2 separate regions of the Homo sapiens genome follow, and region 2 is linked to region 1. The links come from fine-mapping of genetic effects on gene expression. A gene starts in region 1. The other region holds a variant in brackets. All regions are shown on one strand. Distances are from middle to middle.

Region 1 (4,389 bases):
TTCGAGGTGCACTATAAAGTGTGTTGTATTTTACTAATTAAACCACTGTTGGAGCTCCTCACTGTGCACTATGTGCCAGGTGCAGTGTCAGCAGATTGATCACAATAGATCCACTCCTTGCCTTCCTGAAGCTTACTTCTGGGTAGGGAGGCCGACACTAAAGAGTCAGATAACTATGTCTATAAAGTTGTGACAAGAGGTGTAAAGAAAGATAGCAGGCTAGAAAAGCCTGCAGGGAGAGAGCAGGTCAGAGCCCTCCTAGGCTCTCAGCACCAAGGGATTCCTGGGAAGTCTGACTTCCTAGGAAGAGTGCTCTGGAGGCAGCCTTCTGACGTGGAGGTTGTTGGTTACCAAGCATTTAAAGTGAAGTGAACTATTGTCACTCTGTCTTAGGATGACACAGTGCACTTTCCACAGGCCTGGGTAGGCCTAGGTATGGATTTTTGTACTGGAGATCAGACAGGTTGGTATTTAAAAACTGGTGGGGAGTGGGGGTGGTGGAGAGGTTGGGGAGGTGGCGGGCGACTAGGAGTGTGAAGGGGAGGGGGGATGGTGGTATTTGCTTTAGACGCATTATGCAGGAGGTGGGAACAGCAGGACTGAGGGGTGTGAGAGGTGCCTCTTCTCTCTGTTTTTCCTCCCTGATGTACACTCTTCACACTTGCCTAGAAATCAGTTAACAGGTGAGAACTGCTTTACAAATCTAGGCCTCAGTTGCTAAAGAACCAAACAGAAGCCCACTCTCTTTCCTGCCTGCCCTTCCCAGTCCCTGAAGGAGAAGGTGAATGCAGTATTCTCTGTTGGGGAGGGGCAAGTGAGGAGGTTGAACTGGAAGCCAGGAGTCCCCTCTGGCCCTCTGAGCTCGCCAAGCCTGACTTTCCGTTTAACAGGAGTAAGGGAGGTTACCCCACACCTGCTCCCGGCTCATCCCTGCCCCAGTGCCTGCTAATTGCTCCCATGCCCCTGTTCCCTTCTTTTTTTCCTCCCTTCGGGGGCTCAGCACAGCAAACAGGCAGATGGGGGAGAGGTGTGAGATTATCGTGGGGAGGGGAATGAATTTTCCATTATTAATAACAGCAACAACAACAACACTTCGCCTGTTGGCACAGCACTCACTAGTTTATCTAGTGCCGTCACACCTGTGATCTCTTTGGATCCCAGAGGTGCAGACTGAAACCCTGGGGTTCTGATTCCCAGCCTCTGACACTGTTCACATGTCCAAGCAGGCCACTTCTTTACAGACACACACATGCCCATCTGGCCATTGCCAAAGGCCATGTCTAGACCTTTACTTAAAATGTGCGCTGCCGGGCGCGGTGGCTCACGCCCGTAATCCCAGCACTTTGAGAGGCCGGGGCCGGCTGATCACCTGAGGTCAGGAGCTCCAGACCAGCCTGGCCAATATGGTGAAACCCCGTCTCTGTTAAAAATACAAAAATTAGCCGGGTGTGGTGGCGCATGCCTCTAATCCCAGCTATTCGGGAGGCTGAGGTAGGAGAATCGCTTGAACCCGGGAGGCGGAGGTTGCAGTGAGCCAAGATCGCGCCACTTCACTCCAGCCTGGGCAACAAGAGCGAAACTCCGTCTCAAACAAAACAAAACAAACAGAAAAAAATGTGCGCTAGCCCCCTACGAATGCTGCCCTCTCGGCTTATGTCAATCTCAATTTCAGTAAGTCCCCTCCACTTCTGTGAAACGTCTACCAAATACACTGGAAAAGGGTCGGCAAGGTGCCTTGGAGACCATCTAGTCCAACTTTGTCGCTGGTCCAGAGAGAAGGGCTGGGCCGAGGACACAGCTGGTGCGGGATAGAACCACCCCCGCCTCCTCCCTCCCTGGCGCACACATGCATGCACACGCGCGCCTGCTCACGGCGCTCCTCCTTCTCGCAATGCCCTAGGCAGCTGCAAACTTCGGTCCCCTAGAGCTTCTCCCTAGGGGCTGCCCACAGCGGGTGTTTCGGGAGTTGAACCTGTACACCTTGTTTTCCCCTTTAGAGTGGAATGAGGTGGGAGGAGCTCGCTGTCCTCCGGAAACTAGAGGGGGATCTTTTATGAAGTTACAAATCGTTAGCCTATGAAAACTCTGATTTCACACACGAGAGGCGAGTTGGCCCCAGGACACGGGCGTTGACACGCACCGGGTTGTCCCGGCAGCCGAAGGCACCTTTGCATAAGCGCCGCGTCTCCCAGTCCCCTCCGAGCGTTCCTCAGCCCCCGCCCCACCGCCCGCCTCTCTCCCTCCTCCTCTCCGGCTTCAGATCGTCCAGTCTCCCTTTCCCGCCCGGCGCCGCAACAAGTGCGGGCGTCGCGGCCCCTCTTACCCTGGCCTCGGTCCATGGCGCCGGCCCGGTCCCCGGGGAGCGGGCCGCAGGGCGCAGGGGCTCCGGCGCGGCTGGTAGCGGCCGGCGCGCTGCGCTCTCAGGCCAGCCCAGCGGCCGGCGCTCTCTGCGGTCCCCTCCCCCAGACAGGATGCTCGCCGGCAGCCCCCGCCCCGCCCGCGCCCGCGCCCGCCCCTCAGAGCCGCTCCCGGAATAGACCCGAGCACGCCTCGCCCCCTGGGCCGCAGCCCGCTGTCCCGTGGTGCCGCACACGCCCCGCCGCGCCCTGCCGCTCGCTCGCCCTCCGCGGCGCTCCCACTTGGGCTTGGAGGACCCTTTTCCCCGTCCGCACGCGTTCGTTCCCGCGCCCGCGCGGCCTGCCCCAGCCCGGACCCAGGAGGTGTGCGGCTTTGCTTGCACTCCGCTAGCGATGGGGTCTTACCACCGCACCCCTCAGCCGGCTCCATGCCGGAATGCGGAGACTGTTGGAGCGCGTTTTTATCCTAGGGAATCAAAACCCCCTTCCCTGCAGCCGCCACCCATTTCCTGGCTTTGGGCTTGTCTTCTCCATTCGCCGCGGGTCTTTCTTGAGCACCTTCTAAGCCAGACAGTGGGCCCGCGGCGATGCCGGTGCAATGTCAGTGGTGTTGCGAAAGAGGAGTTAAATAATAACAAAGATCTTCAGAAAGAAAAGCACCTGGGAAAGGGAGAAAGAGAGGCTTGCTGAAAGGTGGGCAAGGGCTTGGGACACTTTCAACTTTTGAGGTTCCTTGTGTACTAAAACGTGAAAACATAACGAGGATCTGGGAGAATTCAGAAAAAGAATAGAAAAATGAGTAACACGTGAAAACATGCAGAACAGGGTGATAAAAAATGTGGAAATGAATACTTTTAGCATACAAAATACAGTGCAATATAAGTGTACTTTTCGCAAGATTGTAGAAAATATTGCTATGACCAGTGTGGAACAGTAATGGGATCTAAGTTTAAAGCTGTATGAAGAATGTCAACTTCTTCACCTTATTAGTATATCCCTGTGAAAATAGGTCTCACTCATTTATACACAATATCAAATGTCTGACTTTAAGACCCTTCATAAAGTCCAGGACCAATTGTTCTCCTAGACACTGCTCCTCCCACCATGGGCCAGGCCATGGTTTTCAGCTTTGAGCTGACCACTGTTCCCTACTTAGAACATTCTGGAACAGGGAACAGCTACCACAGAGGTATGGAGGCAACAAAAGGCCTGGGAAAGACCCTCCTGTACTTTCCTGGACTGGGAATATTTTCTTTTCTTCTTTTTTTTTTTTCTTGAAAAGTCTCCCTTTGTCGCCGAGGCTGGAGTGCAGTGGCGCGATCTCGGCTCACTGCAACCTCTGCCTCCCGGGTTCAAGCAATTCTCCTGCCTCAGCCTCCTGAGTAGCTGGAATTACAGGCGCCCACCATCACTCCGGGCAAATTTTTGTATTTTTAGTAGAGACGACGTTTCGCCATGTTGGCCAGGCTGGTCTCGAACTCCTGACCTCAGGTGATCCACCTGCCTCGGCCTCCCAAAGTGCTGGGATTACAGGCGCCAGCCACCTAGCCTGGCCGGGAATATTTTCTCTATTGCTTTTATGGGCAAATTAAAATTAACATTTTCTTAAAATATTGCATCAGTAATTTAGTGTGTGTGTGTGTGAGCACTCAGACCAAATGTGATGTTGTGAACAGTGTATGAAAACTTGTGCATGGCTCTTGTTCTGTTAGTTTGGTGCAAAAGTAATAGTGGTTTTTGCCACTGAAAGTAATGGCAAAAAACGCTATTACTTTTGCTCCAATCTAAATACTACATAGTATAATAACTTTTCGTCAATGAGGTTTTCTTGCTCATCTGTGCTATGGGAAGCCTCATACTGTAAGTCCTCACAGGACTGTTGGTAGGGCAAATGAAATAATACAAACCCACTTTATAAACCACAAACAGCTATAAAATATGAGCCATTATTATTTTCTGAGTTCCTTTTTGTTGCTGTCCCCTTTTCCAATTTGAAAAGGTCAGTTTCAATTCTAAAGCAGCCAACCAACAA
Region 2 (4,389 bases), 31 kb before region 1:
GAATGCTGCTCTGGGCTCCTAGCCCCTCCTGTGCATCTGTTTCCTGAAGACGGCAGCACTGACATTCCCAGTGACTGGGACACCCAGTTCTATCTCCCAAGTGAGGCTCGGAGCCCGCCTTTCCAGCAGGCACCCTGAGGCCTCAGACGCTGGACATCTCCTGGGAGGTGAACGGGGGGGTCAGGTGTGAAGTAGGGAAGGGTGAGGGGGCGTGGGGACACAGTACTCAGACACCTGGCAGGGCTGGACGCTGTGAGCGAGAGGAAGGATACTCCCTGATGGGCTTGGCGTGCTCTCCCTGCACAAGGTTCCTGGCCCTTCCTGAAGCCCTCCCTTTCCTTCTGCCCCAGGATTCCAGCTGCTTCTGGGAGGTGTCTTCTCTGCCCTGTCTGAGAGGGAAGTGAGTTCCCTGGGGAGGTGAAGGAACCCCATATAGCCAATAGGCTTGACCTGGGATTCAAGGCCCAGCAGCACTTTGTTCCCTGTCCTTGAGTGTATAAAATAAAGTTGCCTGTTTCACACCCCCACAGCTGTTTGCGATAACACAGAACCTGAGACTATCAAGGCTGAAGAGGGCTGTGGATTACCTGATCCAAGCACCATAGCCAAAAGGTGCAATCAGCCCAAGGTCCATCAGCTGAGGAATGGATAAGCACAATGTGGTCTATCCGTATGGTGGGATAGTGTTCAGCCATAGAAAGGAAAGAAGTTCTGAGGCATGCTACGACATGGATGAACCTAGAAAACATGCTAAGTGAAAGAAGCCAGACACAAAAGGCCACAAATTATATGACTCCATTTATGTGAAATGTCCAGAATAGGCAAATCCATATGGACAGAAAGTGAATTGGTGGTTAGCAGGGGCTGGGGTGGGGAATGGGGAGTGACTGCTTAGTGGTATGGGCTTCCTTCTGGGGTGATGACAATGTTTGGGGACTAGATAGTTGTGATGGCTGCAAATACTGTGAATGTACTGAATGTACTAAATGCCACTTGCTGGACAGCTTGAAATGGTGGAAATGGTTAATCTTACGTGTATTTTACCACAGTAAAAAAATTCACCCATGGTAAAAAGCACAAACAGTAATAGAAAAGAGTATGAATGAAAAAAATACGTTCCCTTCACCCATATTTCTATTAATTTCCCGCAGGAAAATCCTGTTAATAGTTCCTTGCATATCCTTGAAAAATTGTTAAAACGGATGCATGTGTGTGTGTGTGTTTGTGTACACCCTATTTAAAAAAACAAATGGAATTGTTGTATGCAGTATTTTGTGTTTGACATTTTCAATGACATAATAAAACCGATCTGTCTTTGCTGATCAGAATTCATTTTAGAAATTTGATTATTTTTTGGTGGTTGGAGAGCATTCCACTGTGCTACTGAATGACAGAGCAGCATCACACAAACATTATCTTATACAAATTCAACTACTCATGCTGAGCCATCCAAACATTAGGATGTAGTTTCTTATATGTAACGTTAAGTCCTTTTACCCAAACAAGTGACTTCATCTGATCTCTTCATTCAAAAGAACGTCCATGTGTTGCAATGCTGGAGGAAGCCGATGAAAAGACCAAAGACTCTCCTTTATGGCCAGTTTAAGGGATTTTCAATGGTAACTTGTACCAGTGCCCACTAAATTATTTTACTGCACCCACCTACTAGTAAAAATATATACATATATTTATGTTTATTTTTCTATGTTATATATGTATATATAAACTTTTTTTTACAAATATGCTATTATCAGATTATAAATGCTACAAAACATTCACATGGAATTTATTAAAAGATATGTTGAATTAAATAGAAGTAAAGCTTCTGATATTTCTGCCTACATCATGTTATGAACCCCTGGGTACCCCCACTCTACTCTGACAGCCTCTGGTTTAGACCACGTGCTTTTTATTTTACGCATTGACTCGATAACCTAACCCACCTATAGGAGGTCATTCTACTGAAACAATTTCACCACCCACTCAAGAGGAGCACTTGGGTTAGCAGTTTTAGTAGGGGGAACAGTATAGTGGTGGTCATCTGTGTAGCTGCCTCCTAGCACACTGACATGGTGCGTCTGCTTCCTCTTTCTTGTTTTAAGGGTGGAAGCACAGAGATCCAGAGGGCAAGGGGATTTTCCAAGGCCACACAGATCTGGGACTAGAACCTAAGCCCCCAGCCCCTGGGGCCCCACATATTGGTCCACCCAGGCTGTCACCGAAGAGGCCAGGTGCCCAGGGTAGCTTCTCCTAAGCCAATGGTGACATGGTTGGGAGGGTGA[C/G]AGGCTTGCAGTTCCAGCTCCCACAGGACACAGAGGAACTTAAATTTGGCTTCTCAGGGACAGGAAGTCCCCAGCCCCACCAAGAGGACCAGAACTTACTGTGGGAGCTGATGTACTCAGGCGACTTGCCGGGTCCCAGAGGAAGGGCCTCTTCATAGTAGTCCTCAGGGGGAGGCTTGTTGGGGAGCGGTGGAGGCAGGTCGGCCGCCTGCAAGGGGACAAAAAAGAGGGCTAGGGGAGCGGAGCAGGGTAGGGAGAGAGAGGCTGAGGGAGAGGGAGGCAGGAGCTCGCAGAAGGCAGGAGGCAGTGTGAATGTGAAGCCATACCTTTTATAGAGCCACAGAGCTGGTAAAACTCGAGGGCATATTTATCCAGTGATTCTTACCCCAATTTTTTTTAATCATCAGGGTTCCCCTGGAATGTCTGCAAGTTTTGTGGACTGCCAAACAGTAGTAGTCATACTTTTTACTGAGCACATGCAGAATTACCAGAAGCTACTGTGAGTTCTGCACTACTCTGTAACCACGTCTACACACACACGAGGTGCAGTAGGACAAGGAAGCGTGAGGCCTGTTCTTTAGTGAGGCAGGACCACCCGCAGCTGAGTGCTGAGCCACTGGGCCAGGGGAACCGTGGCTTTACAGCTAAGTTCTGCCACGTGTGAGTTGTGGGACATGGGTCATATCACTCATTCTCTCTGAGCCTCAGTTTCCTCATCTGTAAAATGGGGATAACAATTGTGCCAGCCTCATTCAGTTGCTGTCAGCATGTAAAGGACATAGTAAGTTGCTAGTGACTGGTACTGTTGCTGGTGATGATGACAATGAATTATGCAGTTGACAGACAAAGCTTGTTGTGATTATGAGCCCCTTGCTCTAATTCCATGGCCCCAAGGTTGCGCATCCTATATCTGGTCCAGTCTTTCATTCTGTAGGTGACAAACTCAGGCTCAGAGAAGAGAAGCGACTCGCCTAAGGCTACACAGCAGAGTCATGGGGGTGGGCAGAGGTCACCCAACTCCTGGTCCAGAGCTTTTTCCATAGCCTGGCTTATGTTATGCAATCGGAAGTTGGGCTGGTGACGTCCTTCGGGCCTGAGGGCACAGGTAAGTTCACCACATTCTCCCTGCTCAGCACAAACACTGTGACTTCCCAGTCAGGAAGGTGGCAAAATAAAGAATAAAAATAAAAATAAATAAGAAAAAAAACACACAGCGAGCACATCACGGGCCATTGAAATGTTCACATGGTGCTGCCTGTGCCCTCACCCACAACCCGAGAGAGACAACAGGGTCCAGAACCGCCAGGAGAGCACCCAGTGGGAAGGGGAGAGCTTCCCTTGCCTCCTCCAGAGGGACAGAGGCCCTGAGGTGTGGGAACCCAGGCCATGACTCACGTTTCTCAGGCGTGGGCTCTTGGCTAGCTCAGGGCTGGCTCCTTTGCTGGGCTCCCCATCATCCTCTGGCATGTCCCGAAGGTCACTCAGGTCACAGTCTACAGAGGGACAGGCCATTGGGCAAAGAAAGCCAAGGATGAGCAGCACAGACCAGGGGAAGAGGGCTGGATTTGGGGTCAGGAGGCCTGAGTGTGAGGTCGGGCTCCACCACCCCTCCGTTAGTAACCCTAAACAAATGACTTTTGACTCTGAAACTCATCTGTACGTGGTGGCAATGATGCCTGCCTTGTCTGTTTTCCAGGATTGTAGAGAGGATCAAATAAAATCATACTTGTTTTGGTACTTTGGAAATCTTTGAGGGTTATGCTATAAAGGCACAGTGTGCTCCCTAAGTCTATGAGTCCCCAAAACTCTCTCACCAAGGCCTGTAGCTTTCTTTCTGTGTTGAACAGAGCTGTCTTCCCTCAGGATAGGGCTAGGACGGCAGGTACTCTGCATGCAGCCAGCTCAGCTGCTCCCATGCCCGTGGCAGCCATGCAAGCTATCATTTCTGCTGAGCCACTGCATCGCTCAGCCCAGTGTCTCAAGTGGCAATCACCTGGGAGTGGCCGGTGAGGAAACACCCTAATGTGCCATGCCTTCTTTGGACTGCATGGTCATCCCTACCATTCCTCAAGTCTCTGAGCTGAATTCCTATTCCTATGCAGACTTT

Alleles and levels. Alleles are on the strand shown, and positions count from the first base shown. SD is a standard deviation of normalised expression in the study named.
As copies of G replace C in region 2, the expression in subcutaneous fat of the gene that starts at base 2,449 in region 1 goes down (moderate effect, 0.62 SD a copy in TwinsUK).

What was found. PIP is the estimated chance that this variant, and not a neighbour inherited with it, causes the effect. A credible set is the group of variants that fine-mapping cannot tell apart.
Region 2: its variant is the best candidate, but not a certain one, in a credible set for the expression of AFAP1L1 in subcutaneous fat (TwinsUK, PIP 0.73).

The regions. Positions count from the first base shown.
Region 1 is chr5:149,269,919-149,274,307 of GRCh38, reverse strand. AFAP1L1 (actin filament associated protein 1 like 1) reads right to left here and starts at 2,449. Exons shown (of 19, transcript NM_152406.4): 1 at 2,324-2,449. The coding sequence starts at 2,339. RefSeq lists enhancers at 849-1,388, 1,389-1,930, 1,931-2,470.
Region 2 is chr5:149,300,519-149,304,907 of GRCh38, reverse strand. It overlaps AFAP1L1 (actin filament associated protein 1 like 1), which reads right to left. Exons shown (of 19, transcript NM_152406.4): 4 at 3,678-3,775; 5 at 2,382-2,490. Among named protein-coding and RNA genes, the nearest start is that of AFAP1L1, 31 kb to the right of the region's middle. The variant C/G (reference allele first, on the strand shown) is at 2,283.